Homo sapiens: one gene and its partners. The protein of the gene in region 1 interacts with the protein of each later gene in a pairwise test. Each region holds a gene or a part of one and is shown in the gene's direction. Other genes may lie near its edges.

Evidence for each region.
Region 2: the proteins of TMEM45B (region 1) and TSPAN33 interact in binary tests that used the Homo sapiens proteins (3 or more experiments, as listed by UniProt).
Region 3: the proteins of TMEM45B (region 1) and SMAGP interact in binary tests that used the Homo sapiens proteins (3 or more experiments, as listed by UniProt).
Region 4: the proteins of TMEM45B (region 1) and CDS2 interact in binary tests that used the Homo sapiens proteins (3 or more experiments, as listed by UniProt).

The regions. Positions count from the first base shown.
Region 1 is NC_000011.10:129,853,839-129,860,518, forward strand, and holds the end of TMEM45B (transmembrane protein 45B), read left to right. Parts: intron 1-771; coding exon 772-978; intron 979-1,869; coding exon 1,870-2,054; intron 2,055-3,474; coding exon 3,475-3,620; intron 3,621-4,735; coding exon 4,736-4,847; 3' UTR 4,848-6,165; downstream 6,166-6,680.
Region 2 is NC_000007.14:129,140,279-129,147,722, forward strand, and holds the start of TSPAN33 (tetraspanin-33), read left to right. Parts: upstream 1-4,428; 5' UTR 4,429-4,702; coding exon 4,703-4,804; intron 4,805-7,444. UniProt on the Homo sapiens protein: Part of TspanC8 subgroup, composed of 6 members that interact with the transmembrane metalloprotease ADAM10.
Region 3 is NC_000012.12:51,267,392-51,274,981, reverse strand, and holds the start of SMAGP (small cell adhesion glycoprotein), read left to right. Parts: upstream 1-4,566; 5' UTR 4,567-4,726; intron 4,727-4,771; exon of another isoform or gene 4,772-4,923; intron 4,924-5,665; 5' UTR 5,666-5,703; coding exon 5,704-5,737; intron 5,738-7,590. UniProt on the Homo sapiens protein: May play a role in epithelial cell-cell contacts. May play a role in tumor invasiveness and metastasis formation.
Region 4 is NC_000020.11:5,129,999-5,137,022, forward strand, and holds part of CDS2 (phosphatidate cytidylyltransferase 2), read left to right. Parts: intron 1-7,024. UniProt on the Homo sapiens protein: Catalyzes the conversion of phosphatidic acid (PA) to CDP-diacylglycerol (CDP-DAG), an essential intermediate in the synthesis of phosphatidylglycerol, cardiolipin and phosphatidylinositol.

The DNA.
Region 1 (6,680 bases):
AATGTCATCATGGAGGATTTCTTCTAGGCTTCCCCAAGAACACTTTGGGTACCAGGCATAAAGACAAATCTTTTGCCTTCCAAATTAGCTGATAAAAGTAGAAGGGATAAGAACTAAGAGCTATCCTGTGTCGCAGTTTCGTCATTTTCTGGCCCACATCCTGGGGCCTCTGCCTTGTTTACCCGGTGTTTTAAAACACACAGCTGGGAGGGGCGCAGGGCTTGCAGAGCTGGCTCTGTGCCCAGGAAGGACACGCACTCAAAATCAGCCCTGCAGACACGCACCTGGGAGCCGCTTCCCTCCCTTGGCACGTACAGGTATCTTCATTACCAGTGTGTCTCTGCTCAGATTCTGCTTTCAGCCTAATTGTTTCTGTCTGGGATTTCTTTCACTGCTCACTTGGCAGGGAAGCCCAGAGATTATTCTATCAGCCACACTCCGACTTAAGTGATGATGTCTTGCTCATCTCTGCTCCTGGACAAACCTCCTGGGGATCTATGTGTGTGTGGTTGTGTTCATTGATTCTTCTACCCTCAACCCCAAACCCCTAAAAGGAACAACAATGGCAAGATGTCTACACAGGTGACTCAGCACACACCCTACTTTATACTGAAGCAGCTGCACCTGAGGCAGCAAAGTAGCTCTGCTGACCCGCGGGCCACCCTCACCTCACCCCATCTCCGCTTCGCTCATGCCTTTGGGTTATTCCTTGCTCCTATTTGTCTTAGAGCTACTCTTCCCTCTAAAACATCCATCCTCATTTCCCTGCAGGGATCCTGGCAGAGCAGTTTGTTCCGGATGGGCCCCACCTGCACCTCTACCATGAGAACCACTGGATAAAGTTAATGAATTGGCAGCACAGCACCATGTACCTATTCTTTGCAGTCTCAGGAATTGTTGACATGCTCACCTATCTGGTCAGCCACGTTCCCTTGGGGGTGGACAGACTGGTTATGGCTGTGGCAGTATTCATGGAAGGTAATTTTGTGGAACGGATGGAGAGGAAGGAGAGCCTGACAAGTCATATTTATGAAGGATCAGAGTACAAAATATCAGAAATGTTGCAAATATAATAACCTCCCCCAGAAAATCCACATCTCTGGACTGCCAAAACCTGAATAGGACCTAGTGCTCTACTCTGGATGGGCCAGGTGACATATTCCCTAAAGTAGCTCATGAAAGCTTTGAGGCTTGAAGGCAGCTACCAAAGCCCCGGCTAACACTGCAGGAGTCCTCCTCGCCTTCCCACTGCCGCCAGCAGCCCCTGCTCACACACGTGCATATTCCTCGGTGTGGACGTATGTGCGCACATACACATGCGGGTACACACAATGCCCCAGCTGGTTGAATGCCACCATGCAGGGGATACACCCCTTTGGTTAAGCGAAACCACACTCTACCTTTTGCCCAGGGAGGTACCGTCTTGCCTCCATCACAAGCCTCAGGAGACCCACTCCACTGCCAGGGGAGCGCTGCCAGTATGACTCACACTGACTGGGGTATGAAAATACATTTTGTCATCTAACAACCTCACTTCTGTACCTCAGCAAGAGTCGAAAAAGGTTGAGGGCAAAACTGAATTTCAAGTATACACACACAGTCTGTTACAAATCAGCAACATGCTTCAGCCGGCCCATCCTATACTGACCCCACCATGGGTTCCATAGAGATTTTAAGATACAATCCCTTGCTGCTTTATACTCCTAACATACTCATGAAATACACTTACTCGCATCTGTTTGCTGCCTGTAATGTTATGTACTAACTGCCTAAATGCTGAAGAACCTAGCTGAGACAGGTGTAGGAGGAAACTTCGGTGATGGTGAAAGCCAAGCGTAGCCCTGACAGCTGCCATCTGGTTTGTGGCAGGTTTCCTCTTCTACTACCACGTCCACAACCGGCCTCCGCTGGACCAGCACATCCACTCACTCCTGCTGTATGCTCTGTTCGGAGGGTGTGTTAGTATCTCCCTAGAGGTGATCTTCCGGGACCACATTGTGCTGGAACTTTTCCGAACCAGTCTCATCATTCTTCAGGGAACCTGGTTCTGGCAGGTGATTTTCCACACCCAGGCCCCTCGCTGGTCTGGATGGAGAAGCCCCCACCGAGCGCATCCCAGAGAAATCCCTGACGAGAATATGGGGTCTGAAAATGCAGCATTAACATGCCATGCAAAGGGGTTTAGATGACCCTTTTCCCCCCATGCCCGCCCTTTGACTCCTAGTTTTATCCATTAACATCCAGAGGATGCATTAGCAATCCAAAATTTAAAGCATGCACGGTGACGTTCAGCTGCCCTCCCCAGAGGATGGGCTGATGCCTTTCACAGGCTCTGCTTGCTAAACTGTCCACTGGAAACGTGGGCCCTGAAGTTCTGTTTTGTTGTTTGTTTTGAGAGAGACTCACCCTGTCACCCAGGCTAGAATGCAGTGGCGCAATCTTGGCTGACTGCAACCTCCATCTCCCAGGTTCAAGCGATTCTCATGCCTCAGCCTCCTGAGTAGCTCAGGTTACAGGTGCCCGCCACCACACCTGGCTAATTTTTTTGTATTTTTAGAGACAGGGTTTCACCATGTTGGCCAGGCTGGTCTCGAACTCCTGAACTCGAGTGATCCGCCTGCCTCAGCCTCCCAAAGAGCTGGGATTATAGGCGTGAGCCACTGCACCTGGACTTGTGTTTTTAAGTAAGCCTATACAACCAAAATTAAGCTGAAGCCTTTTTTTTTTTTTTTTTTTTCTGAGACAGAGTCTCGCTTTGTCGCCCAGGCTGGAGTGCAGTGGCGCAATCTTGGCTCACTGCAAGCTCCACCTCCCAGGTTCACGCCATTCTCCTGCCTCAACCTCCCAAGTAGCTGGGACTACAGGCGCCCGCCACCACGCCTGGCTAATTTTTTGTATTTTTAGTAGAGATGGGGTTTCACCGTGTTAGCCAGGATGGTTTCAATCTCCTGACCTCATTATCCACCCACCTCAGCCTCCCAAAGTGCTAGGATTACAGGCATGAGCCACCGCGCCCGGCTTTTTTTTTTTTTTTAAGACAGTCTCGCACTGTGGCCCGGGCTGGTGTGCAGTGTCATGATCTCGGCTCACTGCAACCTCCGCCTCCCAGGTTCAAGCAATTCTCCTGCCTCAGCCTCCCAGTTAGCTAGGATTATAGGTGCCCACCACCATGCCCAGCTCATTTTTTGTATTTTTAGTAGAAACAGGGTTTCACTATGTTGGTCAGGCTGGTCTTGAACTCCTAACCTTGTAAACCGCCTGCCTCAGCCTCCCGAAGTGCTGGTATTACAGACGTAAGCCACCATACCTGGCCAGAGCCATTTTTCTATGTGAAAAGGCCTTTCTATGCTAACGAAGTGTGGGAACTATGAGGCGGTGGTCACACATGGGCCACTTCGGTGGCCACAGGAGAACGGCTAGATTGCTTCTCAGGACGACCAACCACAAGACCAACTTCTCTCTGTAATCCCCTAGATTGGGTTTGTGCTGTTCCCACCTTTTGGAACACCCGAATGGGACCAGAAGGATGATGCCAACCTCATGTTCATCACCATGTGCTTCTGCTGGCACTACCTGGCTGCCCTCAGCATTGTGGCCGTCAACTATTCTCTTGTTTACTGGTATGTCTGAGACTTCAGTGAAGCTTTTCCTCCTAACTCTAAGCAGGACTGATGTGATTAACTTGCACCATCTGATGAGTGCCGACTACAGGCCAAATTCTGTGCAAGGTACTCTCATGCAGGGAAGGTATCACTACCCTTATTTGCAAACAAGGGGAATGAGGCTTTTCAAAGTTTAATGACCTGAGGGCTTTTCAAAGTCATAGTAACCTGAGGGACCCAGGTTTCAAATGCAGGTCTCACAGATTTTAAGCCTATGGTGTGGTGGGGAATACTGAAATGGGAATCAGTACTGGATGGCAGTCCCCACGTAAAGGGTTCATTCTGGACCCATCATCTTATTTCCAGACCTGCCCTCCCTGCTTCCCAGAAATGATGTGACAGTCAAAAAATAAACCAGAGCAGAATGTTAAGACAAACTGCACTCCACCCCTCACTGAAGGCTCCTTAGAGGTATACAGATAACAGCTATGGACTCCTATGCACTTGCTGCGCCCCAGGCCCAGTGGAAAGCAGCTACACTCTATTATCCCATTTAATCTTCACTGCTTTATGAAGTATGCACTGTTATTTTTTACAGGTGGAGAAAACAAGGCTTCAAAAAGCTGAGTAACTTGACCAAGGTCACCCCACTAATAAATGGCAGAGCCTCTCAGTGCAAGGGTGAATTTTAGCAAATGGTATTACCAGTTCTATTTGCTGTTCGGCTGCCTCTACCTTTTCTTCTAGGTCATTTCTCTAGATCCCAAGCAGAATATTAGGTTGGTGCAAAAGTAACGGTGATTTTTGCCATTATTTCATCCAGAAAGAGTTCCACACGGACCAAAGAGAAGGGAGCTCAAGTCAGTTTCTTTTAGTTCTCCTGCCCAGCCACTGAAACAGTAAACCAAGATAGGCAAGACCTTGGCCTCAATTATGACATTCAGTAGTTTCCACCATCGCCCCTTTATCTACTGATGAATATTTCCTAAGAAGTCTAGTTTATAGACATGTAATCACAGTATTTGATAGAAATATAAAGAAAATAGTTTAAGAATCAGTAGATGCCTTCACATCCTTGGTAATGGATTAAGGGAATCTCTGGCTAATTGGCTCTTACTCTTTCTCTATTAAAGCCTTTTGACTCGGATGAAGAGACACGGAAGGGGAGAAATCATTGGAATTCAGAAGCTGAATTCAGATGACACTTACCAGACCGCCCTCTTGAGTGGCTCAGATGAGGAATGAGCCGAGATGCGGAGGGCGCAGATGTCCCACTGCACAGCTGGAATGAATGGAGTTCATCCCCTCCACCTGAATGCCTGCTGTGGTCTGATCTTAAGGGTCTATATATTTGCACCTCCTCATTCAACACAGGGCTGGAGGTTCTACAACAGGAAATCAGGCCTACAGCATCCTGTGTATCTTGCAGTTGGGATTTTTAAACATACTATAAAGTCTGTGTTGGTATAGTACCCTTCATAAGGAAAAATGAAGTAATGCCTATAAGTAGCAGGCCTTTGTGCCTCAGTGTCAAGAGAAATCAAGAGATGCTAAAAGCTTTACAATGGAAGTGGCCTCATGGATGAATCCGGGGTATGAGCCCAGGAGAACGTGCTGCTTTTGGTAACTTATCCCTTTTTCTCTTAAGAAAGCAGGTACTTTCTTATTAGAAATATGTTAGAATGTGTAAGCAAACGACAGTGCCTTTAGAATTACAATTCTAACTTACATATTTTTTGAAAGTAAAATAATTCACAAGCTTTGGTATTTTAAAATTATTGTTAAACATATCATAACTAATCATACCAGGGTACTGCAATACCACTGTTTATAAGTGACAAAATTAGGCCAAAGGTGATTTTTTTTTAAATCAGGAAGCTGGTTACTGGCTCTACTGAGAGTTGGAGCCCTGATGTTCTGATTCTTCAAAGTCACCCTAAAAGAAGATCTGACAGGAAAGCTGTATAATGAGATAGAAAAACGTCAGGTATGGAAGGCTTTCAGTTTTAATATGGCTGAAAGCAAAGGATAACGAATTCAGAATTAGTAATGTAAAATCTTGATACCCTAATCTTGCTTCTGGATCTGTTCTTTTTTTAAAAAAACTTCCTTCACCGCGCCTATAATCCTAGCACTTTGGGAGGCCGAGGCAGGCAGATCACGGGGTCAGGAGATCAAGACCATCCTGGCTAACATGGTGAAACCCCGTCTCTACTGAAAATACAAAAAATTAGCCGGGTGTGGTGGCGGGCGCCTGTAGTTCCAGCTACTCGGGAGGCTGAGGCAAGAGAATGGCATGAACCCGGTAGGGGAGCTTGCAGTGAGCCCAGATCATGCCACTGTACTCCAGCCTAGGTGACAGAGCAAGACTCTGTCTCAAAAACAAGCAAACAGACTTCCTTCAACAAATATTTATTAAATATCCACTTTGCAACAGCACTGAAATGGCTGTAAGGACTCCTGAGATATGTGTCCAGCAAGGAGTTTACAGTCAAACAGGAGAGACATGCCTGTAGTTACATCCAGTGTGATGGGTGCTGAGAGGCAAGTACAAACCACGATGAGAAAAAGGAGAGGAGGGGAAATGCAGAGCTTGCCCTGTAGAAAAAGCACATCCCAGGTAGAGAGGGTAGCACATTAAAAAATGAAAGCATAAAAAAATACGGAGAACTTAAAAAGATTAAGTTCTACAAACTGATAAAAGTGAGTTAGGACCAAGTTGATGGGCCTTAGAGACCAAATAATACTTTCCGTGTGCATAGTATTTTTCAGATTCTGAGATGCACCCTATCTCATTTGATTCTCACAACCGCTTGTAATGTGTAAGAGCATGAGGTCTTTCAGAAAAGCTGGCTGGCCTAGCAGGGCGCGGTGGCTCACGCCTGTAATCCCAGCACTTTTGGAGGCCGAGGCGGGTGGATCATGAGGTCAAGAGATCGAGACCATCCTGGCCAACATGGTGAAACCCTGTCTCTACTAAAAATATAAAAATTAGCTTGGTGTGGTGGTGAGCACCTGTAGTCCCAGCTACTTGGGAGGCTGAGGCAGGAGAATCACTTGAACCCAGTAGGCGGAGGT
Region 2 (7,444 bases), on another chromosome or scaffold:
GTGGCCTGATCTCGGCTCACTGCAACCTCCGCCTCCCAGGTTCAAGCGATTCTCCTGCCTCAGCCTCCTGAGTAGCTGGGATTACAGGCGTGCACCACCACGCCCAGCTAATTTTTGTATGTTTAATAGAGACAGGGTTTCACCATGTTGGTCAGGTTGATCTCGACTCCTGACCTCGTGATCCACCCACCTCAACCTCCCAAAGTGCTGGGATTACAGGTTTGAGCCACCACGCCTGGTCTACATGCTTTTTGAAGGAAATCACCAGCCTGGCCAACTGGGATCCCCACAGTCATCAGCCACACGAGCTGAGCCATCACTGCTGCTGACCCGTCTTGCCTGGAGTCTCCTGCCTTGCTCTACCCAGAACTCCCCTTTCCTAAAGCTCCTCGTCTACACCGTGTCACTGCTTCTCTCTTCACATACCTTCTTGCCAATGTTAGCTCCAGCAACATGACCCTCTTTCTTTACAGAGATACCATTCAAATATTTTAATTATTTTCATAATCATATGTAATAATATTAAATATATTTTTAAGCTAAAAATTGCTACATGTCCCGTCACAACAACACAGCTGATTTTACTTTTATATTTTTTCATCTCTGTTGAAATTGGCCCATATTTCTTACTGTGAATATGTTTATATTGTTAAAATCTTACATACTATTACATAAGTTTTTTGGGTTCCATTTTTTGTTTGTTTGTTTTCTTTTGTTTTTTTTGTGTGTGTTTTTGGAGACAGAATTTCTGTCACCCTGGCTGGAGTGCAGTGGTGCAATCTTGGCTCACTGCAACCTCCACCTCCTGGGTTCAAGCAGTTCTTGTGCTTCGGCCTCCCAAGTAGTTGAGATTACAGGTGCACACCACCACGCCCAGCGAAGTTTTGTATTTTTAGTAGGGATAGAGTTTTGCCATGTTGGCCAGGCTGGTCTCAAACTCCTGGCCTCAAGTCAGCTGCCCACCTTGGCCTCCCAAAGTGCTGGGATTACAGGCATGAGCCACCACTTCTGCTTTGAATTCCATTTTAAATGGCCACATTATATATTCCACATAACTGAAATACCTTTTCCATTGAATTCCATTTTAAATGGCCACATTATGTATTCCAAAGAACTGAATACCTTTTCCAAGGACTTGAAATAAGTTGAAACTATTCACTGATTGTCAGATACTCTGTATACTTTATTCTACAACCTGATTTTTGCACCTCATATGTCATGGACCTTTTTGCAAGTCAGTACATATGTTTTCTATGTTATTTTAAATGGCTGCGTAGCATTCTATAGTAAAGATACATTTTTCCAATTTTTAAATTCTTTTTGATTTTTCAATTTGTGTAATTTTTTCATTTTGAATCATTAATACACTTTATGCTGCAAAGAAAAAAAAACAAAAAAAAAACAAAGAATAAAATGGCACACAGTGAAAAGTCTCTCTCCTCTCTTTTCAGTTCTCATCACCATCCCAGTATGTAACCTCCTTTCTTAATGTCTTACGTTTCCTTCCAGAGTTTATTTAGGCAGAGGGAAGCAAATATAAATGTTATTCCTTATTTTTGTTTTCTCTCTTTCTCTTTAACCAGAATGTGATATATTGTATCCACTGTCCCACTTGTTGCTTTTTTTTTTTTTTTTTTTTTGAGACGGAGTCTTGCTCTGCCGCCCAGGCTGGAGTGCAGTGGTGCGATCTCGGCTCACTGCAACCTTCGCCTCCCAGGTTCATGCCATTCTCCTTCCTCAGCCTCCCGAGTAGCTGGGACTACAGGTGCCCGCCACCACACCCGGCTAATTTTTTTGTATTTTTAGTAGAGACAGGGTTTCACCGTGTTAGCCAGGATGGTCTTGATCTCCTGACCTCGTGATCTGGCTGCCTCGGCCTCCCAAAGTGCTGGGATTACAGGCATGAGCCACCCCGGCCTCATTTTGCTTTTTAAACGTAATGAGTTAACTTGGAGATCGTTCCAACTCAGTACAGAGAGAGTTTCCTAATTCTTTGTTCTATAGCTGCATGGCTTCCTACTTTGTGATGCCGTCCGTGACTTCCACATGAGGGACATTGTGGTCATCACTTTGAAGGCTAATCCCATCTCTACCTGTTAATTCCAAAACCTCATTCCAGCCATTATCCACCTTAATCCCTCTTGACTGTTTTGTTTTGTTTTGTTTTGTTTTGTTTCCTACGAACATGTTAGGTCTCTTATATGCTAACAGAGAACTTTCCCTTCACTCTGAAGTCCCTTAAGGCTCCCATAACCTTCAAAGCCAGACAGAGATGTCCACAGTTTCGTTCACAGCTTCCATTTCACCACCCATTCCTTCCTTGACACTGTGATATTCCTTCTTCTTCCCGTCTCAATTAAAAATGATCTCTTGGCTGGGCACAGTGGCTCATGCCTGTAATCCCAGCACTTTGGGAGGCCCATGCAGGTGGATCACCTAAGGTCAGGAGTTCAGACCATCCTGGCCAGCATGGTGAGACCCCATCTCTACTAAAAATACAAAAACTAGCCAGGCATGGTGGCGGGCGCCTGTAATCCCAGCTACTTGGGAGACTGAGGCAGGAGAATCGCTTGAACCAGGGAGGCGGAGGTTGCAGTGAGCTGAGATCAGGCCACTGCACTCCAGCCTGGGCGACAGAGTGAGACTCCGTTTCAAAAAAATAAAACTGATTTCTGGAAGATCATCTAATAGAAACATTCAGCATCTTGGTCTATTTCTCTATCCTCCCCGCACTAACATCTGAAAATGGCACCTACCTATTCACTCATTAACCTCTTGGAAAATGACTTCTGCCCACCCTACCTGCTTTATACTAAAACTGATCTCCAGTGTCACTTAACCTGTTAAGGGCCAGTAATCTCCCAGTAACCTGGCTGTGACTGCCTTCTTTAACCTCCACTCTTGGTGCTCCTGTTATGCCTGCTTGTCACCACAGCCTAGCCCTAGAGATTCTATCTTTCCAATGCCTTCCCTTCTATCCTCTCCTAACCATCTATTATTCTGTCTATTACTCCTAAATCAGTTCCTGATTTCTGATTATCTGGATGATGAGCAGCATGCTTCTAACAAATCTTTCTCTCTCCAGCCTCTTTCCCACTCCAACTGAAAACCATGGGTTTTCCATCATCCTTTTCTCCAAAACTCTTATTTCCAAGTCAATTAAGCACTAACTCCCCAATCTGATATTCAATTACTTCCGCAGTTTTAACACAATTCCACATGTAACGGCATCGGTCAGCATTATGTCCCACTGCTATTCCAAGCATACCCTGTGCTCCAGCCACAGCAGTCTGCTTATTTTGCACGAAACACATGGCGTGCTTTTGCACCTCCAGGCTTTGGTTCACCCCCTTTTTTTTTAATCCACCTGGATTATGTTTCCCCTCCGTCTCTACTATTCTAAATCCCATCCTCCCCTAATTTCACTTGCCACGCTATCTTCACTAACCTTCTACCAAACGTATTATAATTATTTGTGCGGTTATCATATTTCCACACTGGATTCTTAATTCTGCTAAAACGAAATACTGTAATGCCTTTGATGAGCCTTCCATGTGCCAGCCATGTGCTAAGTGAGCTACATGCATTATCTCATTTAATCCTCAAATCGCCATCTAGGTCAGGACTCTCCCATTTAACATTAAACAAACTGAGGCTCCGAGAGATTAAGTAGCTTGCAGCTTTCACGCAGCTAATTATGGTGGAATCAGATTCCCTCCCCGAGGTTCAACTTGTATTAGTTAGGGTAGCCAGCATAATATATTCGCCAGCTACGCTGCACTCAACCTGTGTGTGCCGGATCAGCATGTTAAAAACGGTGTCTGCAAGTAGACCAAGGGAAGAGGGGCTGCGGGGGCGGGAATTGAGACAGCAATGAATTAGGATGGCGGGATTGGCGGTGATGTTTCCAAATTTCCACTGTTGGGTTGTAGAGCTTCTGAAATAAGCATTTAAAATGTATAGTTACTAAACAAGATTGCATCTACCCTTGGTCTAATTGTTATGTGTAGGTTAGTTTTGTCTCCCTGATTTTATTGTCATCCCCCAGGGATTGTTTCTGTTCTCCCGCGTTCCCAGAGCTTTCGGCGCATTGCTCAACACACGGTGTGCGTACTTGTTGATTTTAATGTATGTGTGTTTGCATATGTGCACAGCAGCTGGGCGGAGGACGTGGGTGTGGGATGCACTGTGCATTCCTTCTCCTCACTCTTGTTCCTTTGAGCAGCTGCAGCCTGGATGCTTTCCCTTAGGGGTAGGGGAGAGGCAGAACCGCTGACCCTTTAACAAGTTATCCCTCACAGAACAGGTGTCTCCCCCGACTCTCGGTGGAGAGGGATGGCTGGATACTTAGTGACATCAGCCACGAGCCAATGGGAAGTCGGGCTCCAGCCGTCGCGCCAATGAGCGGCCGGGGGCGGGCCGGGTTTCCTGGGCGCCTGGCTGGCCGGGCTGGTCCTGCGGCCGCGGGTGAGTCTCGTCCGCTCGCGCTGCCCACCGCGGCTCCAGCAGCTCCAGGCGCGGTTCCCCGGCCCGCGCCGCTCCCGGCCCCCCGGCTCGGGCGCCTCCCGCCGCAGCGCAGGCTCCCCCGCCGGCCGGGCTCCTGCGCGGCGCGGCTCGGCTCATGCCCCCGGGCGCGGGGCACACAGGCCGGCCGGCAGCCGCTGGGAAATAGGCCCCCGGGGGCGGTGGCGGCGGCGGGGCCATGGCGCGGAGACCCCGGGCGCCGGCCGCCTCCGGGGAGGAGTTCTCCTTCGTCAGCCCGCTGGTGAAATACCTGCTCTTCTTCTTCAACATGCTCTTCTGGGTGAGTCTCGGGGTCGAGGGCACCTGGGCGGCGGGGTCCCCCCGCGGGGTGGAAGGGTGGCCCGGGGTGCCCCACGCGCGGGAGCCGCACTGCCGAGTTTTCTGGGCTGACGGCACTTTGGGGGAATTTATCCTGGGGAGGGACACCCCGGGGACGCCGCGTCTGCAGGGGGCGTTGTAGGGAGGAGGGTATGCCAGGGAATCAGTAAAGACTGATGGGTATTCTCGGGGCGTCGGAGGAGGGTCTGTGTTAGGCTAGAAATGTGGGTTTGAGGGAGCCTGTTGGCCCAAGGCGGACCCACTGACACATTCATGATGGGGGTCGGGGGTGGCGGCTGACTTTCAGGCCTGGGGGCCTGGAGGCCCGGCTGGCAAAGAAAGAAGAGGAAGGAAAAACCCAAACCTCTCTCTCCACCACCTCAGAGAGGATGGGTTACTGGCATCATCTCTTCCTTTTGCAGGCCTCATCTACCCCCACCTCCACCCCCCCAAAGTCTAGGAAGAATGGCCTCCAGGTGCAGATGTCTTTCCCATCCCAGCACTGCCCCAAACTTTGTCCCCTCCCTGCCACCCTTCTCAGGACCAGACTTCACCCCTGGAGCCTGGCAATCACCAGTGTCTTTAAACAGGACCCCGTGTTGGGCCGGAGGGCCAGGGGTCCTTTCAGAATCTTCTGCTTGGGGTGGAAAAAGTATTGGGCTGGGACTCCGGACACCTGGATTCCCATCCCACTCTGCCGTTCATTGTTGACTTGACCGACCTAAGCATGTATGTTCATGTCTGCAGGCCTTGACTCCCTCCCCCACAAATCCAACCCAGTGTGATCAGGGGTGGCAGAAAGACTGCTGAAGCTGAGAATTGAGCTGAACCAGATCATGCAATGCCAGCTCGACCCTGTTTCCTGGCTAGAGAGTCCTGGAGGTCCTGGGGTGTGAGAACATAGGGACATCCTTCCCCCATTCACCTCCTCTTCTGGCTCCTACCACACCAGAGCTGCTGCTTCTGGAGCCCACCATCCTTGCCCACTTCAGCTGGAGACCTAAAGTTCAGACTTGCAGGAGGGAAGAATTGAGTCTAAAATATGTTTCCTAGGGGAGGGAGCAGAACAGACATCTAAGCCATTTGCTGGAAAGGTTTCACAGGGCCCGTGGGGTGAGGTGCAGACACAAAGCCCATAAGTGCTGGCCTGTTGGGACAAATGAGAGAAATCCCATAGGGTGGTGATGACAGCGCACTCAGCCATCCTACTCCTGGGGAAAATGAAACTTGTGCTCCTATCAAATGCTCAGTTGTAAAACTGGAAAAAAATTTTAGAAGACATCTTGTCCAGCATCTGTGTTTATGTCTATAAAATGTAGAAAACTAAAGCACAGAGATGTTAAATGTTTTGTCCAAGGTCCAACAGCTGGTTAGCAGGCTTGGTCTGGTGACCTTTCTACTGAACCACAGTGCCGCTGGGGGAAGTCCTCAGCACAGATGGCTGCTGCTATAGCTGGGGTATGGGCAGTATTAGTAGTTAACCAGTCAACCCAAGTTCCCATAGTCTAGGTTCTGCTTCAGCTGGAGGTTAGGGAAAAACACAAGAAAATCCCTTACCACTCTACCAGTGCTGGGGGATGTACTAAGAGACTCCCCACTTAGGGGCAAGTATCAGTGAAGTCTCTGTGCTCACTGAGTGTGCCAGGCCAGTGACGTGACATCCTCGGAGCCAGCACTAGCATTTCAGGGACTTTAGGTCGTCACTCTGACTTCCTTTATCTGCCGAGACTGTCTCCCTTGGAGCCATTGGTACCTCACCCTTGTCTGTGCTCGCCAGTGACAACAGCTGGGTGCATCTGTTACACTTGTGTTCCTGGTCATTTTTTTTTTCTCGAGCTTCCCTACCCCCTACCTCCACCCTACCCCCCTTTTATCGGACAAACGACTTTGAGAGATCTCAGCCAGGAGAGAGTTTGGCTCCACAGACCCATTTACCTTGGTAAAAATGCTTCATTCAAGGTCAGAAGACGTGGGTGGCCAAGCTAGCACCACCCCAAATTAGAATAGAGCCCCTTCTTGGCCCTACAGTAGACTCATAAAAAATCAGAGGCTCTAGAAATAGCACACTGAAAGACAAGAGGCTCAGCATCTTTTTGGCACCAACTTACTGTGTGACCCTAAGCCAATGTATCTGTCTCTCTGACCTTAATCTTTCTCCTCTAAAGGAGAAACAATTTCTGCCTCAGTGAACTATTTAAGGATGAATGAATCATTTTGGGGACTGTTTTCTTTCTTCAAGACCTAGAGCTGGATCTAAGGATGAATCTCCCTGTGTCCTGATTGCCCTTCCTAGGGGACAGTACTTTTCAGGTGTTATTGAATGTCCCTTCTCCCCCAAACCCAGTGCTGCACAGGTATATTCATACAAGAGCAGCTGGAGAGAAAATGCTGCCTCCCCAGATCAGGGGGCCATCTTTCTTCCTAGCTCCTCTTCAGGGACTGGTTCCCATGCTTTCTTTTTTGTAGACTTCCACCATCCTAATCAAATTCTGCTCTTCTGCCCAGGAAGCACCTATGGATGAGATGATGGTCAGCCCACACCCTTTGCAGGCAGAGTGCATGCTCTGGCCGGCTTCTGGAGCTGCCGCATGGCAGTGGTTAT
Region 3 (7,590 bases), on another chromosome or scaffold:
TGCTTACAATAGTATTTATTTTACACCAAACTGGGTGCTGAGCATGTGCATATTGGATCTATTTTTCTGTATGACTACACTTTTAAAATGAGGTATGTTGGCTGGGAGCAGTGGCTCATGCCTATAATCCCAGCACTTTGGGAGGCCGAGGCAGGTGGATCACTCAAGGTCAGGAGTTTGAGACCAGCCTGGCCAACATGGTGAAACCCTGTCTCTACTAAAAATACAAAAGTTAGCCAGGCCTGGTGGTGTGGACCTGTAATCCCAGCTACTCCAGAGGCTAAGGCATGAGAATCACTTGAACCTGGGAGGCAGAGGTTGCAGTGAGCTGAGATGGAGCCACTGCACTCCAACCTGGACGACAGAGTGAGACTCCACCTCAAAAAATAAAATGAGGTATGTGACTACATAAAAAAATTAATAAATAATGTATCAGGCCAGGCGTGGTGGCTCATGCCTGTAATCCCAGCGCTTTGGGAGGCTGAGCCGGGTGGATCACCTGAGGTCAGGAGTTCGAGACCAGCCTGGCCAACATGGCGAAACTCTGTCTCTACTAAAAATACAAAAAATTATCCGGGCCTGATGGCAGACGCCTGTAATCCCAGCTATTTGGGAGGCTGAGGCAGAAGAATTGCTTGAACCCGGGAGGCGGAGGTTGCAGTGAGCCGATATCACGCCATTGCACTCCAGCCTGGGTGATAGAGCAAGACTCTTGTCTCCAAAAAAAAAAAAAAAAATCAAGTATCAGCAAACCTTCTAAGGTTACATTTTATTCATTTTTATTATTATTTTTTTTTGAGATGGAGTCTCACCCTGTTGCCAGACTGGAGTGCAGTGGTGTGATCTCTGCTCACTGAAACCTCCGCCTCCCAGGTTTAAGCGATTCTCCTGCCTCAGCGTCTTGAGCAGCTGGGATAACAGGCATGCGCCACCATGCTCGACTAATTTTTGTATTTTTATTAGAGTTGGGGTTTCACCATGTTGGCCAGGATGGTCTCGATCTCTCAACCTTGTGATCTGCCCGCCTCGGCCTCCCAAAGTGCTGGGATTACAGGCGTGAGCCACTGTGCCTGGCCTATTTTTATTTTTTTAATGTTTAATTTTTGTGGGTTCATAGGAGGTATATATATTTATGGGGTACATGAGTTTTTTTGTTTTTTTTTTTTTGAGACAGAGTCTTGCTCTGTTGCCCAGGCTGGAGTGCAGTGGCACAGTCTCAGCTCACTGCAAGCTCTGCCTCCCGGGTTCATGCCATTCTCCTGCCTCAGCCTCCCCAGTAGCTGGGACTACAGGTGCCTGCCACCACGCCTGCCTAATTTTTTGTATTTTTAGTAGAGACGGGGTTTCACCATGTTAGCCAGGATGGTCTTGATCTCCTGACTTTGTGATCCGCCTGCCAAAGTGCTGGGATTACAGGTGTGAGCCACCATGCCCGGCCTCATGAGATGTTTTGATATAAGCATGCAATGCATAATAAAATCATATCATGGAGAATGGAGTATCCATCCCCTTAAGCATTTATCTTTTGTGTTAAAAACAATCCAATTACACTATTTTAGTTATTTTTAAATGTACAATTAAGTTATTATTTATAGTCACCCTGTTGTGCTACCAAATAGTAGGTCTTAAGGTCTTATTCTTTTTTTTTTTTTTTTTGTACCCATTAATCATCCCCACCTCCCTCCCTAAGGTTACTTTTTTTTGGTTGAGGGGAAAGGATCTTGCTATATCTCCCAGGCTGGAGTGCAGCCTTCACCCCCAGGGCTCAAGTGATCCTCCCACCTCAGCCTCCTGACTAGCTGGGACCACAGGTGCATGCCACGACTCCTGTCTAACTTTTTTTGTATTTTGTAGAGACAGTGTTTCAACATGTTGCCCAGGCTGGTCTCAAACTCCTAGGCTTAAGTGATCTGCCCACTGTGGCCTCCCAAAGTGCTGGGATTATAGGTGTAAGGTTACTTGTTTTTTTTTTTTTTTGAGTCAGAGTCTCACTCTGTTGCCCAGGCTGGAGTGCGTTGGTGCAATCTCGGCTCACTGCAACCTCCACCTCCAGGGTGCAAAAAGGTTCTCCTGCCTCAGACTCCGAAGTAGCTGGGATTACAGGCTCCCGCCACCACACTCAGCTAATTTTTGTATTTTTAGTAGAGACGTGGTTTCGCCATGTTGGCCAGGCTGATCTCGAACTCCTGACCTCAGGTGATCTGCCTGCCTTGGCCTCCCAAAGTGCTGAGATTACAGGCGTGAGCCACTGCGCCCCACCAGTTACATTTTAAAGAGAAAAAAAAGATGCTTATTGAAAGAACATTACTAACAACTGTCGAAATTGTGAAAGTGACAGCAAATCAGTAGAGTCAGTCAGTTGAGCCAGATAGCCTCTGAGTCTGTAGTTCTTTTTTTCTTTTTTTTTTGTCGCCCAGGCTGGAGTGCAGTGGCACAATCTCGGCTCACTGCAACCTCCGCCTCCCGGGTTCAAGCGATTCTCCTGCCTCAGCCTCCCCATTAGCTCGGATTACAGGCGCCTGCCACCACGTCCAGCTAATTTTTATATTTTTAGTAGAGACAGGGTTTCACTGTGTTGGCCAGGCTGGTCTTGAACTCCTGACCTTGTGATCCACCCGCCTCGGCCTCCCAAAGTGCTGGGATTACAAGTGTGAGCCACCGCGCCTGGCTGAGTCTATAGTTCTAAACAATCTTCAACACATAATAGAAAATGTGAAAGAGACAGACCCAGGTCCAAGAACGATCTGAACTTCTCCTGGAATTCATGATCAAGGTGGACAGCTAGAAGTATGTCAATGCCAGCAATTGTCCTCCTTTGGATTTAGCCCTCTAGGATTTTAATTTCCTTTTCTCTTGGATATTCTCTTATCTAAGGACAAGCCAGGCTCACCTTTCTTTTATTAAGTTACATATGCATAGCTGGCATATCACTTTCTTTGCCTTTCTTGGTTGGATTGGCATTTTCCCATGCACATATTTACATATATTTCTCACAATATATTTATATAAAATGAATTTCATCACTTTTTTATTGTTTGTTTTCCTCCTGTATTTGTGTTTGTTTTTTTCTTTTGAGACGGAGTTTTGCTGTTGTTGCCCAGGCTGGAGTGCAATGGTGTGATCTCGCCTCACTGCAACCTCTGCCTCCCAGGTTCAAGCAATTCTCGTGCCTCAGCCTCCAGAGTAGCAGGGATTACAGGTGTGTGCCACCACGCCCAGCGGATTTTGTATTTTTAGTAGAGACAGGGTTTCACCTTGTTGGCCAGACTGGTCTCAAACTACTGACCTCAAGTGATCCACCCGCCTCCCAAAGTGCTGGGAGCCACAGTGCCCTGCCCTCTGGTTTCTTTTATAATGAACACTTTAGGAATAAAAGCAACTACTCTTGCTTTGCTTGTGACTTTGTTTTGTTTTCTCCCTTTATGCCTCTCTCCTCTGAGACCTTCCCTTTCGGTCTGTTCCCGGATTAACATGCACAATCTGATGATGCCTGTCTTTCTACAGAAAGTATTTCTGTATAAATACTGGTTTACAAACCTACAGAACGCCTAGGAGTGCGAAGTAAGCACAGAAGTCTATCACTGGGAGGGAAAGAATAATCACAAGGGTTCCAATCCTAAACGGGAAGCCAAGGTAACAAGACCTAGCGTTTATTGAGCACTTACTATGTGCCAGGCAAGGTTCTAATGCCTTACAGTACATATTTACTAACCTATTTCGTCCCAACAGTCACTCTATTCAGACAGGTATTGCCCCAGATAAGAGAAACGGAACAGAAGCAGCTTGTCCAAGATCACACAGCAGAGCTGATTCCAGTGCCTGCGCTATATACTATTACATCCTCTTAGTCACTGAATTCTTCTGATTAATTTGGGAACATTTCCTGCCACAAACGAGTGAGTCAAGAGGTAGCTAAAGCATGGCACTGATTATTCAAATTGAGGTGCTCACCATGCTTCTAGAACCATGGATATGAGATGGCTTTACAGGCATGATCACTTTCAGACCCGCATTTTAGGAATGAGGAAACAGATTTTCGAGATGTTAATTTGCCCAAAGTCACCCAGCTAGCAAGCAGAAGAGCTGGGGCTGTTTGAATCCAAAGTCCACGGCACTCCTAACCGCTGCTCAACGCTGCCCCACAAGAACGTCCAGCTGGCAAGACCCGGGTGGGGCTCGTTGCTCTCCCCGCTTCACCTCCCTGCTTCACGGCCGGGGGTGTGCTGGCTAAGTTCGCTCATCTGCCAAGCTTCAGGACACAGACCTATGTGAGCAAGCGATAAACAAATGCAAATAAATGTAACTTTCCACATTAGCTAAAAATTCAGAGAACGTCAAGCCCAGGGAAATGGGACGGATCCCAGTTAGCCCGCGGCTCCAATCTGGTCCCCCCCCAACCCCGAGCCTCGCGGCGAGAAAGGAAGCGGCTCCGGATGGAGAGTAAAGTGACAATCGGAGAAGGGCAGGCTGCCTTTCCTCCCGGGGGAGCCAAGGGGACCTGCAGAGGGCGGTTTCTCTCCGCTTTTCCTGTCCCACCCCGTCGGCCTGCCCCCCACCCCCTCCGGCCTCTGCGCCAACCCCGCGCGCCACCCGCGGCTTCCTCCGCTCGGGGTCCTCGTTCGGCCTCTGCTGGCCTCCGCGACTCCGCGGTGCCCGCCCCCGTTGAGTTCAAAAGGACGCGCGGAGCGGCGCCGGCCCTTCACCAGCAGCCCGTCCGACTGGAAAGGTGAGCACGAGGGAAGGGCGGGGGCGCCGGAGAGCCGGGTCGCCCACATTCGCCGCAGCCACCTCGGCCGTGGCAGGAACCGAAACCCGGAGCGGCCGAAGCTCAGCGCTCCGCTGGGGCAGAGGGTCGCGGCGGCTGGGAACGCCGCTCCCCGACGCACCGGCCGCCCCCAGCGCAGCGCGCTCCGCGGGGTGCTGGTAACGCGGGGGGCTCGGGGCGGGGGCGGGGACGGGGGCGGGGCCGCGGGGCGAGGACCAACCCAGCCCGTCGCGTCCACCCCGCGTTCGCAGGGGCGTCGAGGATCTCCGGGGCGCGGGGCGCGGGCTGGGGCCCAGTGAGGCTTGGCAGGCTGTGCGCGGACCGCGCCCTGGACGGCGAAAGCAGGCCCGGAGGGGGCGGCCAGTCCGGCGTCCCAGCGTCCGAGGCGAGCCAGAAGGCGGCCCACGGCCGTCGCCTCCCGGTCCCGGCCCGGCTACTGCGCTGCGCCCACTCCGCTCTGGAGCCTGGGCGCGGGTCCTGACCTTCCCGGCCCTCTCCTGACACCTGGTGGATGGCGTCACCAGAACTCCTAGCTGTGGAACCCTAGGGTACCTGTTACCGCGCTTTGGCGAAACTGGGTTCGCTGCTGATTTGCGAACCTTTGCCTGACTTTCTCAGGCCTTGAGAGATCTAAGTAAATTTGGTGGCCCATTGAAAGGACCTGGAGAGAGCGTATGAAGGTAACACCCCGTCAAACTGCATGCGGCCTCAGACCTGCTCCTGTGGAGAGCTGTTGGTACCTGGAGCCTGAGGAGATATTCAGGGAAACCAGAAGAGGACAAGAGAAAAAGGGGAAGGGACTTGGGAGAACCTGGCACCAGAGGCTTTCCTGGGACTTCCAGGACTCAAAGCCATAGGGGCCCACCCGCTACATTCCTGTCTTTGCCCCTCTTCCTACAGATCTGCCTCTTCTCCAAGAAACTCAACCACTAGTGACAATGACCAGCCTCCTGACTACTCCTTCTCCAAGAGGTAGGTGAAGGCCTTTCCTAATCCCAGTGAGAAAGAATTGTTCAACATCCCCTTCCCCAGACCAGTCCTGGAAGCCTCAGCCCAGGTGGGAAGACTCCCACCTCTCTCTGCCTGCCTCACACAGGAAGGGCCTGGGAGGAAGCAGGAACTAGAGTGTGCCCCTTAGTACGGTTTTAATCTGAAGTCACATGGACATGGTGACTTCACAAATCTTTGTAACCTCGGTTTATCAAATAATTTTATGTCGGTAATCCCAGGACTTTGGGAGACTGAGACAGGAGGATCTCTTGAGGCTAGGTGTTTGAGACCTGCCTGGGGAACATAGTGAGACCCCATTGCTAATTCAAAAGAAAGAAAGAGGCCGGGCGTGGTGGCTCATGCTTGTAATGCCAGCAGTTTGGGAGGTCGAGGTGGGCGGATCATCTGAGGTCAGGAGTTTGAGACCAGCCTGGCCAACATGGTGAAACTCCATCTCTACTAAAAATACAAAAAAATTAGCCAGGCGTGGTGGTGCACGCCTGTAATCCCAACTACTCAGGAGGCTGAGGCATGGGAATCGCTTGAACCTGGGAAGCACAGGTGAGCCGAGATCGTGCCATTGCACTCCAGCCTGGGCAACAAAGTGAGACCGGTCTCAAAAAATAGGAAGGGAGGGAGGAAAGGAAAGGAAGGAAGGAAGGAAGGAAGGAAGATTATTGTATAAGCCTAAAGGAAGGGCTTTACATTCATCTGTCTAATAATTTATAGCTATGGCAAAGAATGTAGCAGAAACCCTTGTAATTAAATGTGGAAAAGGAATCTTCAAAGATAACAGGGAAATCATTTTTTAAAAACCTGCTAAAGATAGTATTGCTAACCTCTAAGCTCCGGTTTCATCATTCACAAAATAGGGAAAATAGTACCTATCTTATGATTTATGAAGATTAAATGAGACAACCCATATAAAACACCTAGAAGAGTGTGTAGTATCTCGTAAGCACTCAGTCACGTTGGTTATTAGCACTGAGTACTTGTTAGAAACCCATCTTTCCCTTGAAAGTGATTTTGCTGGCTTTCTCATTCCACTCCTCTGGTGATACAGACCCAGCATCAAAACCCCATTGTTCCCTGAAGGTGTGCGGAGGCCGGGCACTACTGCTCAGCACTCTGAGAATGGATGCCCACCTTTTAGTTCATCATCAGGCTGGGCCGGACAAACTATCAGTTATTTATTGACTGTTTTCAGCATGTGCTAGTTAGGGAGAGAGAGGAACAAACCCTTGGTTGGTCTATACACCTTTGTCTTCCTATACACAGTCACATTTGTCATTAGGACAGGCATTCTCTGCTTTTACTGATGTGGAAACAGGTGAGTGACACCACCAGTGGAAGTCTAAGACAGTGTCCTCTGTGACTGGTAATGCACACAATTCAGACTTTTAGTTGTCTGGTGAGAAGAGATAAAAGAGAGAAATGGCCAGGTATGGTGGCTCACGCCTGTAATTCCAGCACTCTGGGAGGTTGAGGCAGGCAGACTGAGCTCAGGAGTTCGAGATCAGCCTGGGCAACATGGCGAAACCCCATCTCTACAAAAAAATTTAAAAATTAGCCGGGCTTGGTGGTAGACACCTGTGGTTCCAGCTACTCCAAAGGCTTAGGTGGGAGGATCCCTTGAGCCCAGGAGATGGAGGTTGCAATGAGCCGAGATCATGCCACTGCACTCCGGCCTAGGTGACAGAGCAAGACCCTGTCTTAAAAAAAAAAAAAAAGAGTTAGGGGGACACGGAGTGGGGGGGGGGAATAGGTCAGCAAAGGCTTCATGGGTGGGTGAGGAAGGGGATCTGAGTCTTGCCCTTGAAAGACGGACAAGGTTC
Region 4 (7,024 bases), on another chromosome or scaffold:
TTTCGCTCTTGTTGCCCAGGCTGGAGTGCAATGGCACAATCTCGGCTCACTGCAACCTCCACCTCCCGTGTTCAAGCAATTCTCCTGCCTTAGCTTCCCCAGTACCTGGGATTACAGGTGCCTGCCATCACGACTGGCTAATTTTTTTGTGTTTTTAGTAGAGACGAGGTTTCACCATGTTGGCCAGGTTGGTCTCGAACTCCTGACCTCAGGTGATCTACCCACTTTGGCCTCCCAAAGTGCTGGGATTACAGGTGTGAGCCACCGTGCCCGGCCCATAGTAAACTTTTAAAAAATCCTGATTTATTCTGTTTCATAGTTTGGGAAACACCTACTTCCATGACTTTGGCTTTGCCAATATTCTTGTGTTAGAACCCAAGGAAATTAGAAATAATAAATTTTAAGGAAATGCATTATGAAACAAGAACTTTTTAATTTCATAGTAGAAGAATCCAGTGAACAATTTTCAAGTCAGTGCTTTAAAAGCTCTGGAATAGGCTGGGCGCGGTGGCTCACGCCTGTAATCCCAGCACTTTGGGAGGCTGAGGTGGGCAGATCACCTGAGGTCAGGAGTTCGAGACCAGCCTGACCAACGGGGTTTTAGTAGAAACCCCGTCTCTACTAAAAATACAAAATTAGCCGGGCGTGGTGGTGCATGCCTGTAATCCCAGCTACTCAGGAGGCTGAGGCAGGAGAATCGCTTGAACTTGGGAGGCAGAGGTTCCGGTGAGCCGAGATTGCGCCGTTGCACTCCATCCAGCCTGGGCAACAAGAGCCAAACAACGTCTTAAAAGAAAAGAAAAGCTCTGGAGGCTGGGCGTGGTAGCTCACGCCTGTAATCCCAGCACTTTGGGAGGACGAGGCGGGTGGATCACGAGGTTAGGAGATCGAGACCATCCTGGCTAACATGGTGAAACCCCATCTCTACTAAAAATACAAAAAATTAGCCGGGCGTGGTGGTGGGCGCCTGTAGTCCCAGCTACTCGGAAGGCTGAGAGGCAGGAGAATGGCGTGAACCTGGGAGGCGGAGCTTGCAGTGAGCCGAGATGGCGCCACTGCACGCCAGCCTGGGCGACAGAGCAAGACTCTGTCTTAAAAAAAAAAAAAAAAAAAGCTCTGGAGTAAACTTGAAAGATTCCTCAAAATGTTACAGTTGCTTAACTGCTGTGGCAAAACTGTCTTGTAAATAGAAAATCATTAGTATCAAAATAATCTGGAGCATGTTTATTTATAAAAGTCAGAAGGTATTTTGTTATATTTAGCATCTGAGAATGGAATTTTCAAAGCCAATTGCTAATAAAGGAAATGTTCTCCTCTGGGAACTGTGCTTATAATTTTAAAGTCCCAAAGCACAGTATAGTTGCCAAACTAAGAAACTTGGAGTTTAGGCTTTGGGAATGATCCTCTTCCTACCCAACCATATTTTTCTGATGGAGCTTAGGAAAGCAAAGGATGAGATATGGTCTGAAAGATTGGCATCTTAAAATTTATGATTGAGTTGGCATTTCAGGAGATTTTGTTTCGGAAGTTAGCGTATAGGTTCTGGGGTTTTCTGCTTTACTTAATTGCTGAAGTGCTATTTAAATTAGAGCTTTACTTATTTCAAGGCTTCCTTTCTAGATAGATGAAACCCATATGGAGAGGAAATAGTGACATCATTTAGAAAGGGGAGTTTAAATCTTAACTGAAGATAGCGTGTAAGAGCAGGGGCTTGGGTCAGTTACATCTACCTTGAGCCTGGGCTCCGCCACATAAAGGCTGTGTAACTTTGAGTAGATCATGGAAGTTGTGGCAGCCTCAGTTTGTCCATCATTAAAATGGGGGTCATAAAATTGTATGTGCTTTACAGGATATTCATGTGGATTAAACGTATGTATGGGCTGACAGCAGAGCTTGTCACATAATATGTTAGCTATGTTGCTACTGATTAAAATAGATTTTTATAGAAAAAACTTTAATATTCATCTTACACACTTGAAAGGTGATTAAATCTTCAAGTTATATATATTTGTAGAACCTATTCATATTCATTACCTTTTAAGGAAAGTTTTATAGAAAGGACTTAGCCTTCTATGACCTATCTTCGGTTTATTTTCAATTTTAATTTTTTTTTTTTTGAGATGGAGTCTCGCTGTGCCACCCAGGCTAGAGTGCATTGATGTGTTCTTGGCTCACTGCAGCCTCTGCCTCCTGGGTTCAAGTGATTCTCCCATCTCAGCCTCCCGAGTAGCTGAGATTACAGTCACATACCTCCACGCCCAACTAATATTTTTATTTTTAGTAGAGACAAAGTTTCACCATGTTGGTCAGGCTGGTCTCAAACTCCTGACCTCAGGTGATCCACCCGCCTTGGCCTCCTGAAGTGCTGGGATTACAGGCGTGAGCCACCGCGCCCGGCCTCTTTTTGGTTTATTTTCTTGTGGAATTTTTCAGTACTCCGAATCACAGGCTTTAACTGTAGAAGGACCACTGAACACTGTTGTATGCAATTACCTTCTTTTATAATTAAAAATGGTTTTCAATAGACTTTGAGATTGAACTACTCAAATAAAATATTAAAGAACTATAACTACTTCAGGTATAAGAGAAATGCTTAATTTTTTTCAAGAAAATTTTTTTATGTTGAGAAATAATTTAGGAATTAAAAAAATCAGTAAACCTTAACTATGATTCCCAGGCTTAACAGGGAGAGGAGGTGAAAGATTATTTTCTCATATAACCAATTATTTTATGTTTCTTATTTTTGTTGCTCAAACAGTATGATTTTATTTTAAAAACTCAATTACTGCATGATTTTTGACTATTTAAAATTAGTTTTTCCAAAATCTATTTTTAAAAAATGTTTTGTGTTTGCCCAGGTTAACATGGTATTTCATTAGAAGAATTTTTATCGGCCGGGCGCGGTGGCTCACGCCTGTAATCCCAGCACTTTGGGAGGCTGAGGCGGGCGGATCACGAGGTCAGGACATTGAGACCATCCTGGCTAAGACGGCAAAACCCCTTCTCTACTACAAAAAAAAAAAAAAATTAGCTGGGTGTGGTGGCGCCCGTAGTCCCAGCTACTCAGGAGGCTGAGGAGAATGGCGTGATGGCGTGAACCCGGGAGGCGGAGCTTGCAGTGAGCCGAGATCCCACCACTGCACTCCAGCCAGGAGGACAGAGCGAGACTTCATCTCAAAAAAAAAGAATTTTTATCATCTTTAAAAAATGTTAAATTGCTCTCCTTGGTTGTTAGGACTAGAAGGGACTTTAAAGGTGTTTTTTATTTTTAGGAACAGGGTCTCACCTTGTTGCCCAGGCTGGAGTGTAGTGGCACAGTCATAGCTCACTACAGCTTTAAACTCCTGAGCTCAAGCCATCCTCCTACCTCAGTCTCCTGAGTAGCTCAGGACTACAGGCCTGAGCCATGGCACCCGGCTTGAGGTAGTTATTTTATAGAAGAGGATGCCACAGCTCAGAGAGTTTAAGTTATTAGCTCAAGATGACTTAGTTGGTTAGATACAGAATGGTTCGTATTATGAAGGTCTTCTATTTATTTATTTTTTGAGACGAAGTTTCGCTGTTGTTGGCCCAGGCTGGAGTGTAATGGTATAATCTCAGCTGACCGCAACCTCTGCCTCCTGGGTTCAAGCAATTCTCCTGCCTCAGCCTCCTGAGTAACTGGGATTACGGGCATGCCACCACGCCCAGCTAATTTTGTATTTTTAGTAGAGATGGGGTTTCTCCATGTTGGTCAGGCTGGTCTCGAACTCCTGACCTCAGGTGATACTCCCGCCTTGGCCTACCAAAGTGATGGGATTACAGGCGTGAGCCACCGCGCCTGGCCTATGAAGGTCTTCTAATTCCCGGTTGTTGTTTTTTATTTTTTTCTCATAGAATTAATTTACAGACTTTAAAAGCTTCTTTATTGATTAACATTGATAGATATGATACCCAAATGTTACCTATTTTTCTTATTTGGCTACAAAATCAAAAAAATACTATATAAATCTTTCAAAATGTTAAATGTTAAAAAGGTCTCAGAGTAAATGTGGAGACTCTTTGCAGAAAAAAATGTATGTGTTTTATAGAGAAAGTTGATTAGTTTCAGTTTTCCTGGTTATCGGATGACTGTGATTTAGACATTTGTGAGCACTTTCCTGGGAGTGGCCACTCTGGTATCCTTGAAAGGCACTCCCGGCGCAGTGCTTGAAGACCACAAGGCGCCTTACCCAGGCAGTGGGTGAGGGTGCTTGGAAGAAATGCTTTCCAGTTAATGACTGTTAGCATGAGAACCATTTGTTCTAGTAATAAGCAGTCATTCAGTATTCAACGCTTCTCTTTAGAACATTCACTGACTGTAGGGTCTGCTATGGACGGTGTCTGTATTTCTGAGAGGGGCTGGTGTTATCAGTGTTCATAAGGATATTATTCAGAATTTTATTGCCTGTTTTGACTCCACATAATCAATTTTTTCCCTACTGATTTAAAGAAATAATACAATCTTTTTTAAATCAATAATATTTAAGAGTTTTATTTTTATTTATCTATTTATTTTTTGAGATGGAGTTTCTCTCTTGTTGCCCAGGCTGGAGTCCAATGGCGTGATCTCAGCTCACTGCAACCTCTGCCTCCCGAGTTCAAGTGATTCTCCTGCCTCAGCCTCCCGAGTAGCTGGGATTACAGGCGCCCACCATCACACCCAGCTAATTTTTATATTTTTAGTAGAGACAGGGTTTCACCATGTTGGCCAGGCTGGTCTCAAATTCCTGACTTCAGGTGATCTGCCTGCCTTGGCCTTCTACAATGCTGGGATTACAGGCATGAGCCACCGTACCCAGCCGACTGCATATTTAAATTGGTAAGGTAGAAAATGAGCATGAGAGTCTAACAGCTGATGGATATGGGAACATAATACTTGATAAAATCATTCAGAATATGTTTGATAAACAAGAAGATTGTATAAAACCTGCACTGTCCTACTAATGTAAAGCATTTCTCCTCCCTCACTTTATTCTCAACCTTACAACTGCCAGAAATTATATAATCTTGAATATATTTGAGAAACTCTTTTTAAAATGAATCTTGTAACTAATTTCTTTTTTGAATTTATATATATAAATATATACATACTTATTTTATAATAGAGACAGGGTCTTAAAATGTTGACCATTGAACTCCTGGGTTCAAGCGATCTTCTCGCCTCGGCCTCTCAAAGGGCTGGTACAGCGTGAGCCACCGTGCCCGGCCATTGTAACTAATTTCACAGGGCAGATAATCATCCTTTAAACTGTTTGAAAAGATTTGAGTGTTACTGTTTCTGGTTTTCACACTTTTCCATCTTTTCTAGGATCCACGTAGGTGGAGGAGATTCCTCTCCACAGTTTGTTAAGCTACATTCTATGTTGTTAAGGTCTCCCAGCCCTTCTGGACTGGCACTAGAGGCTGTTGGGGGTGAAAAAGTACAGCTGTTTGTGTGTCATACTGCCTCTGGTTCAGAAAAGAGACGGACACTGACTCTTCACTATTAATTTTGCCAAAGTCTCCTTGAAAGAATGCTAATTTGTTCCTGGCACTGGGCAGGGTTCCTGCCTTCCAAGTCTTGTCATGTGGTGGTTACTTGGCTGGGGTAATAGTGAGGCACCCCCTCCCCACCCCCACGTATGGTCCCCACCGGGCAGCTTCCTATGCCAGTCACTGATATTTGTTCTCATGTTGTTTGCCCCAACAGTAGGGATGGCATTGAGCCCACTAAGTTGACTGACCTTTTGAAGAAAGTTAAACTTTATGGTGTTATTTTGAGTAGGCAGTCTGTGGTGCAGAATTTGTAGGCAGCAAAGGGTATTCTGTGAAGTTTCCTTTCTCCCGCCTGCCTCTCCCCAGGGACAGCCTCATGCCACACTGTGGTTCTCATGAGCACTGCTGTCTGTGTGGAAGGACCTGACCTGTCCTACCAAAGTCAGACATCTTTTTGATTTGTTGTCTTTGGCAGAAGCTCCTTTGTATTAAGGTCTCCATAGGGCCAGCTTGGGGCTTCTCTGTAAAGACTTTGCTGAGGTTTTGAGAGTTCCTGGGACTTGGGATTTACGGGCAACACTCTCTGCCCCTGGGTCTCTGATGTGGAGAGGATGTCTGCCATTGACACCGAACCCCTGAGTGGGCAACTCTCAGAGCCATATCTCCACAGTCCATGCCTGGCTAGTCCTGTGGTTTCAGTGGTCTACAAGACATTCCTAGGTGCATGCCCTTCAGTCCACACAAACTGACTTTGTCTCAAATCTGAATTCTCTCATTCTACTCTTACCACCCTCCTTCAGTTTCTTTCTTCTGCGATAAAATCCCAGATGACTCGGTTACTCAGGCTTGAAATCTCCTATTCCTTTGTTCCCGTGCCCAGGGCAGGATGCAGATTCTAACCAGGTGTGACTTGGAATCCTTATCTGTTTGTTGTTTGTTGTCTGTTTGTTGCTCTTGGAGACTTCAACATTTCAGGACTGCAGTATTGTAAATGCCTGCAGTATCCTAAATCCGAATTCCTTACCTCTCCTGGAATCCTTATCTGTCTTTTACTCTTTGAGATTTCCCAAATTTCAGGATTTATTGCTTGCCTTATTGTAAACCCTGTGAATTGAGCTCCCTCCTGTTAGGATTTGCTCTAGGTCCCTCCTAATCCATCTTGTTCTTTGTATCTTTCAGGAGTTCTGAAACTGCCCTAATAATTATTGGGGGGGTGGGGTGGAGTGATAGAATTCTGGCTCTTTTTCATAATGCTTAAACTTTAAGATCCTTTGTAGTCTTCTGTCTCTCATTTCCTTCCAATTCTTGTTTTAGGTTCAGGGGATACATGTGCAGGTTTGGTACACGGGCAAATTGCACATTGCTGAGGTTTGGTGTACAAATGATTTTGTCACCTAGGTAGTGAGCATAGTACTAGATGGGTAGTTTTTCAATCCTCACCAGCCTCCCACTCTCCACCCTCAAGCCCTGGTGTCTCTTGTTCCCCTCTTTGTGTCCATGTGTAGCTCCCAGTTCACTCTGCAAGTGA